Homo sapiens: one gene and its partner. The protein of the gene in region 1 purifies or fractionates together with the protein of each later gene. This does not show direct contact. Each region holds a gene or a part of one and is shown on either strand. Other genes may lie near its edges.

Region 1 (3,500 bases):
ACTCAGCATGAAGCCCAAAGTGAAGTGCTTGTTGCAATTACCACAGGTCCACACTCGTCTCCAAAACCTTGGGCCGCACATGCTGCAGAATTCTGAATTCTTCACAGATTTAGGAAGGCGAGATAGTATATATACAGTGGAGTACAGATTACCCCTCAGGGTTTAGGGTTTGCTCTAAACATTAATATTTCTGCACTGCATCATAAGAATATTCACTCAGTGCAATAAATAAAACTGCAACCATAGTTATAAAACTGTATAACATATATATGTTGTATGTATGTGTATGTATGTATGAAACAGTATATAAAACTATATAACATCAATTCAGGACTGTTTTGTGCTAGAAAATAAGATTGCAGCAAACACACACACACGTACACACACACTTCCTTTCAGTTTTCAGAGCTTTCAGATTTCAGAATTATGGATTAATCACACACAGTAATTCTTACCTCATTTTTATTTATTTATTTTTTTCGGCCAGTTTCTGTGGCTCACACCTGTAATCCCAGGACTTTGGGAGGCCAAGAAGGGGAGATCACTTGAGGTCAGGAGTTCGAGACCAGCCTGGCCAACATGGTGAAACTCCATCTTTACTAAAAATACAAAAATTAGCCAGGTTTGATGGTACACACTTGTAGACCCAGCTACTCGGGAGGTGGAGGTGGGAGGATCGCTTGAACCCAGGAGGCAGAGGTTGCAGTGAGCCTAGATCACACCACTACACTCCAGCCTGGCGACAGAGCAGGATTACATCTTTTAAAAAAAACAATTTTATTTTATTTTTATTATTTCAACTTTTAGTTTAGATTCAGGGGGTATGTGTGCAGGTTTGTTACCTGTGTGTATTGCACCATGCTGAGGTTTCAGGTGCTATTGATCTCATCACACAGGTACTGAGTATAGTATCCAGTAGTTAGTTTTTCAACCTTGGCCCCCTTCCCTGCCTCCTCCCTCTGGTAGTCCCCAGTGTCTATTGTCCCCACCTTTATGTCCAGGAGTACTCAACATTTAGTGCCCCCTTCTAAGTGAGAAGATGAGGTATACGGTTTTCTGTTCCTGACTTAATTTGCTCGGGATAATAGCCTCCAGCTGCATCTGTGTTACTGCACAGGGCATGATCTTGTTCTTTCTTATGGCTGCATCTCACGCTGTTTCTAGAAGCATATTATTGAACATCATAAGTCAGAGTTCAGGGGTCAGATGTGAGCAAACAGGAAACATAAATAAAGAGGCAATATTGCATAATCAGAGCCTCCATGCTCCAGTCCCCTCTTTGCCACTTTCTAGTTATATCACTTTGGCAATTGTCTCAACCCTTTTGCCTCAGTTTTCTCATCTAAAATGGGGATAGACAGGATATGGCAAGGGTGGAATAATGTCACTCGTAGGTGACACTAGGCGGTGCCTGCTCCTAGTGAGTGACATATTTGTTATCATTTTTAAAAAACAAGTATCGCCCTGCTAGGGGCTCCTGCACAGTGTGGCTTCAGGAGTACCTCACCCCAGCCTCCTCACGACCTCTCCTGCTGTTGCAGGGTAATGTTGGACTCGGTGACACACAGCACCTTCCTGCCTAATGCATCCTTCTGCGATCCCCTGATGTCGTGGACTGATCTGTTCAGCAATGAAGAGTACTACCCTGCCTTTGAGCATCAGACAGGTGCGTACATTTGAAGGAGCCCATCTGAGTGCAGCCAGGATGGGCTAGGGCAGGAGGTGGTGCTGGCCGCAGGTGGAAGACAAAGCTGTGCTGGGGCCTAGGAACACCAGAGTTCAGGGCAGAGGGCTGGAGGGCTCCTGGATGGAAGGAAGGGCAACCTCTTGCAGATAAAAGGTGCTGGAACCCTCACCCCCAAACTCCCTAGTTCTGTGGCCTCGAGGCCGTGCACGGCTCAGCTAACCTCTCTGAGCCTCGTTTTGCTGCCAAGTAAAATGTACGTCTCTTGGAGTTATTATGATATTTAAACAATGTAGTAGAAAGAAAGCCCTTAGCCCAGGACCTGGTATGCTGTGTTTGCTTGGTCATGGTGGTTTTAGCCAACATTTACTGAACACGAGCTGTGTACCAAACCTTGTGCCAAGCACCATCTCATCCTTGCCAAAGCCCTATGAGATGAACAATTATTATCCCCATTTTATACATGAAGAAACTGAGATACAGAGAGGCTAAGTGACTTGCCCTGGGCCTCACAGTTAAGCTCCATGCAAGTTGACCCATCTTATAATTGATATCACACTGTGGTTATTGATATTAATATATCATTATTCTCTGAGCTTCTATTTCTTTTTCCCTAAACCAGGGGTGATGAGAGCTACTATAAGGACTAAGGGAGCCAAAGGGTGTAAATATGTAGCCTGGCACAAAACAAGTGTTCAGTAAATATGAGCCCCTCACTGTTCCCCAGGCCTCCTTCCCCACCCTCCCTCCTCTTTCTCAGCCTGGATTTCTCCACCTGAGAAGGCAGCATGGGACCTTGAGAAAATCCCATGCCGGAGGGAGGCCAGCCGAGCTTTGCCCCCAGAAACCCTCTGAGGGCCTCTGTCACTGAGGTGCTTGGGTGACCACATATCACAGCACACCTGGCTGACTGCTGGCACAACAGGAGCACACGCTGCTCAGCGGTCATGCAAGTGCCAATCAAGCTGTCAGTCCTCACTGAGTGTTAACCCCATGTAGGAGTCCAGACTCAGTGTCCGGAGGCAGGCAGTGTGCAAGAGAGGCCATGCCTCCAGGGACTGCAAAAAGTCCACTACCAGAAGCCCCTGCCTCTGGGGCCAGGGACCAGGCCACACTCACAGACTTGAGGCACTTACCTACATAATGCAATCCCACACCTGCCCCCACCCCACATGGACACACATACACACACGCGTGCACACACACACACGCACATGTGAAATCTCTCACCCTCATCTGTAAGGTCTAGATCATTGCATTTGGACTTGAATCAAACAGATACATCTTACAATTCTCCTTTAGGCCTAAGAAGCACCTTGTTTCCCAGAAAGACATGAGAAATGTACTGTGTCTCCTTCCCTTGAACTTTGGTTAACAGGTTAAATCTGAAGGAGGAAAATGAAAACTTTCAAGTCGCCGTGCCCTCCCTATGTTTCCCACAGTGGTGGGGCCCAGCTCCAGGCTCTCTCTCTACCTATGCATAAGGCCAGGCCTCACTTAACCCAGACCTGCCATCATGAGAGCCCCCTCTTTCTGCCTATTCTGCTGGGAAGTAGTTGGGGTGGCAGTGGGAGGGGCGGGCTACAACCAGCTGCCCCAGGCAATGGCCTGGGCAGTGAAGCAGCGGCTCTGTGTCATGAAGACCTGGTGTGTCCCAAATGGGAAGTCTGGCTCTGACACTAGCTGTGTCATCTTAACCTCTCATGTCCCAGTTAGTTTCTCATCTGTAAAATGGGAATGACCACAATGCTACCTTGTAGAGTTGTTATGCTAATGAAATGAGTTATCATATGGGAAGTGTTTAGGACACAGTCCG
Region 2 (3,500 bases), on another chromosome or scaffold:
TGATGAGCTGGGAGAGTGGGAGAAGCATCACCCCCTCCCTGCCGCAGTCACTGGGAGAACATCTCCCTGGCAAGGTGCTGAGCAAAGCCCCTCCTACACCAGGCTGGGCTCCCTCCGCCCTGATCGGGTTCTGTGCGTGCCCTCCATGGTTTCCAAGGCCCTTGTTGGATGCAGTCTCCTTCCATCCTCAGCAGAGCCTTGTGAATAAATTGTGATCTGAGTTACCACTCCCACTGACAGATGGAAAAGCAGGCCCACAGAACCTGTGATTTTTTTTGGTGGCTGGAAAAACAGGAGTTAGGGCTGCACTTTTTGAATTCCAAGTTGATGACCCTTTTTGCAATTCCTTATTGCTGTCCGAGGAAAAAGAGTTGCCAGTGACCTGCTGAGAGTCATGAATGACAATAATGGCCAGGATTGAGTGTTCCTCTGTGCTCAGTACTGTACAAAGGGGATTTGTTAACCTGGAAAAAAAACAATCAATGGAGTTTTATTACTTGACATAATTAAGGAGGATGCTGGAAGTATTCTCCAAAGCAGCGTCTCTCCCAGGAGGGTTTCATGGGGTGATGGAGAGGGGAAAGGGTGTGTCATTGCATGTGGAGGAGGGGTCCCAGTGGCACAGATGCAGTGAGTCATCACGCCAGCACATAGTCACATGTTCTGGTGATGAAGCTGTAGCTCCTCCCGGGTGGAGACTGTAGCATGGTAATGAGGAAAGTCCACTTGGGATCATCTCTATAAGTTGCTGGTTTCACCTGACTTGGTGACTGCATTCCATGCAAGTTGTGGGAAAAACCAGGCTGAAGGGCAGGAGCCTGTGAAACAGGCTGATTGTTCAAGCTGATGAAACTCCTATAGTCCTTGGAGACCCTCCCTGTCTGCTACACTTGTACATGGTATTTTATTTGATTGTTGTATTATCCTTAGGATTTGGGATTGTCATTCCCATTTCACGAAATGGGAAACTGAGGATTCCAAGGTTTAGTAGCCTCTCCCAGTGTCAGTCACTAGCAAGCAGCAGAGCCTGGACACGAAGCCAGGTAGTCGGGTTCCAGGGCACATTACTTCTATTGATTTGATGGGAAACCTTCATTGAGTGCCTGTCCTGTGCTAAGGGTATGCTCACAATTAAGTACTCTATTCCTGTGTGTCGTTATGAGCCCCTCTGGATCACACCTGAGTTTATACTGATAAGGTGATTAGTAGGTTGGGGCCCCTAGACAGCCTCAGGATGGAGCTACTTCTTAGAATGACCAAGCAATTAGGAGGTTAGAACTTTCAGCTCCACCTACCGACCTCCTGGAAGGAAGCAGGGGCTGGAGATTAAGCTCTATAAAAACTTACAGATGTGATAAGCATCTGGGTTGAACACATGGAGGGCACTGGGAGGGTGGCGTGGCTGGAGCAGGCGTGGAAGTTCCATGCCCACCCCCTCTCCTACCCTGCCTCTGTGTCATTCCACCTGGCTGTTCCTGAGTTGTATCCTTTATAATAAACCAGTAACTATAAAAAAAGCGTTTGCCTGAGTTCTTCGAGCCATTCTAGCAAATTATTGCACCTGAAGAGGGGGTTGTGCAAACCCCTGATTAAGCTTGTTGGTCAGAAGTCTAAGTGGCCCAGGACTTGTGACTGCCATCTGAAGTAGGGTAGGTCTTGTGAGACTGAGCCCTTAAATCAGACGGGAGTACAGTGACGTGATCATAGCTAATTGCAGCCTTGACCTCCCCCAGGCTCAAGTGAACCTCCCACCTCAGCCTCCCGAGTAGCCGGGACCACAGGCATGTACCAGCAGGCATGGCTAATTTTTGTAGAGATGGGGTCCCACTACGTTGCCCAGGATGGTCTTGGAACTCTTGGGCTCAAGGGATTCTCCTGCCTCAGCCTCCCAAAGTGCTGGGATTAAAGGCACGAGGCACCACACCTAGCTGGGAGTTCTAATTGAATTGTCAGACACCCAGTTGGTGTCTGGAGACTTAGAGAATTGACTGTGTTAGAAAACACCTCAAACCCATTTTACAGATGCAGCAACTGAGGATTAGAGAGGTTTTGGGAACTTTCCCAGAATTTATTTAGTGGTAAGTGGAGGAACTGGGATTTGAATGTGTGTAATTTGACTTTAAGTCCTATACTCCAAGTGACTGCTTGATTTTGCTGTCCCATTGAGTACCTCTGTGTGCCAGGTGCTCACAAGCATTTAGTGATCAAAAGGTTCAGAACCCATTTCTTGCCTGGGCTTTAACCTCTCCATCAGCTTTGGCACAAGTCTGTGTGTGAGCCTGGCATGTACTCAACCTGTCTTGAGTCTTGGTTTCCTAAGAATAAAAATAAGATCAACCTTCTGGCTTTTGTAATAAATGTTAAGTGTTAGATGAATAGTAAGTACACCTGAAATGTCATGTCTCCTCCACTTTTCTCTCCATAAATGTTCATTTATCTTTTCTTCCTGGCCTCTTCTGGACCCTGGAATGCTGCAGCTTGGATGCACCGGTGGCCTGTGTGAAGCCTGTGTGTTCTTGGAAACTGGCCAGAGGCCATAATTCCCAACCCACGTGTTCCCATCCCCTCTTTCTCGTGGCTCTCTGCCATTTTTTGATGGGGGTTGGTGAGGGCGTCTGACCTGAAGGAGGAGGCCAGATGCAGCTATTTATAAAGTTTTTAGGGAATAGAGATCTCAAGAGAAGATTGCATGTCCTTGCTGTCCCCCTGGCCGCCAGTGGTCACTGAGCCATCTTCTCCCCATTTCCCAGGTATGATCGGGTACGGCATGGCCAAGGGTGCTGTTCACCAGCTCTGCCAGAGCCTGGCTGGGAAGAACAGCGGCATGCCGCCCGGGGCAGCCGCCATCGCTGTGCTCCCGTAAGTGCTTGGGGTTCCCTGGCTGCTGCCCACCTCTGCCCCACTGCTGCAGGTGACCGTTTGTCTGACTGTAGCTTTCCACAGGCGACCTGGGTGTGCTCTCACCTCTGGTTCTGAAACACACCAAAGTCTCTTAAGATACTTATTATCTTAATCTGTTTGAATTGCTCTAACAAAATACCTTAGACTGGGTGATTTATAAACAGCAGAAATGTATTGCTCACAGTTCTGGAGGCTGGGAAGTCCAAGATGAAGGCACCAGCAGATTTGGTGCCTGGCGAGGGCTCATTCCTCATAGATGGCGCCTTCTATATGTGCTCACACGGTGGAAGGGGCAAATGGGCTCCCTCCAGCTTCCTTTATAAGCATGCTAATCCCCTCCTAAAGGCCCCCACTTGTCTCCTGCAGACCCCACCTCTTAATACTATTATGTTGCAGTTTGTGTTTTGTATGTGAGTTTGAGGGGGATACATTCAGACCATAGCAATACTTCCAGTTTTGGGTTCTCCTGGGCTGTCCAGAATGTTTGATTGGCTGGTTGGATGGGTCTGTCTTTTTTGCCTCTTTTTTTCCTCTCCCTTTCTTTTCTCCCTTCATTTCTTCCTTTAAAATTAGACTACACATTTTACTTTTTTATATGT

The links.
Region 2: the proteins of ELF5 (region 1) and QDPR purify together in Homo sapiens (affinity purification with mass spectrometry; one large-scale study listed by BioGRID and IntAct). This does not show direct contact.

The regions. Positions count from the first base shown.
Region 1 is NC_000011.10:34,503,795-34,507,294, reverse strand, and holds part of ELF5 (ETS-related transcription factor Elf-5), read left to right. Parts: intron 1-1,541; coding exon of another isoform or gene 1,542-1,545; coding exon 1,546-1,666; intron 1,667-3,500. UniProt on the Homo sapiens protein: Transcriptionally activator that may play a role in regulating the later stages of keratinocytes terminal differentiation. Isoform 2 binds to DNA sequences containing the consensus nucleotide core sequence GGA[AT].
Region 2 is NC_000004.12:17,491,591-17,495,090, reverse strand, and holds part of QDPR (dihydropteridine reductase), read left to right. Parts: intron 1-2,750; coding exon 2,751-2,859; intron 2,860-3,500. UniProt on the Homo sapiens protein: Catalyzes the conversion of quinonoid dihydrobiopterin into tetrahydrobiopterin.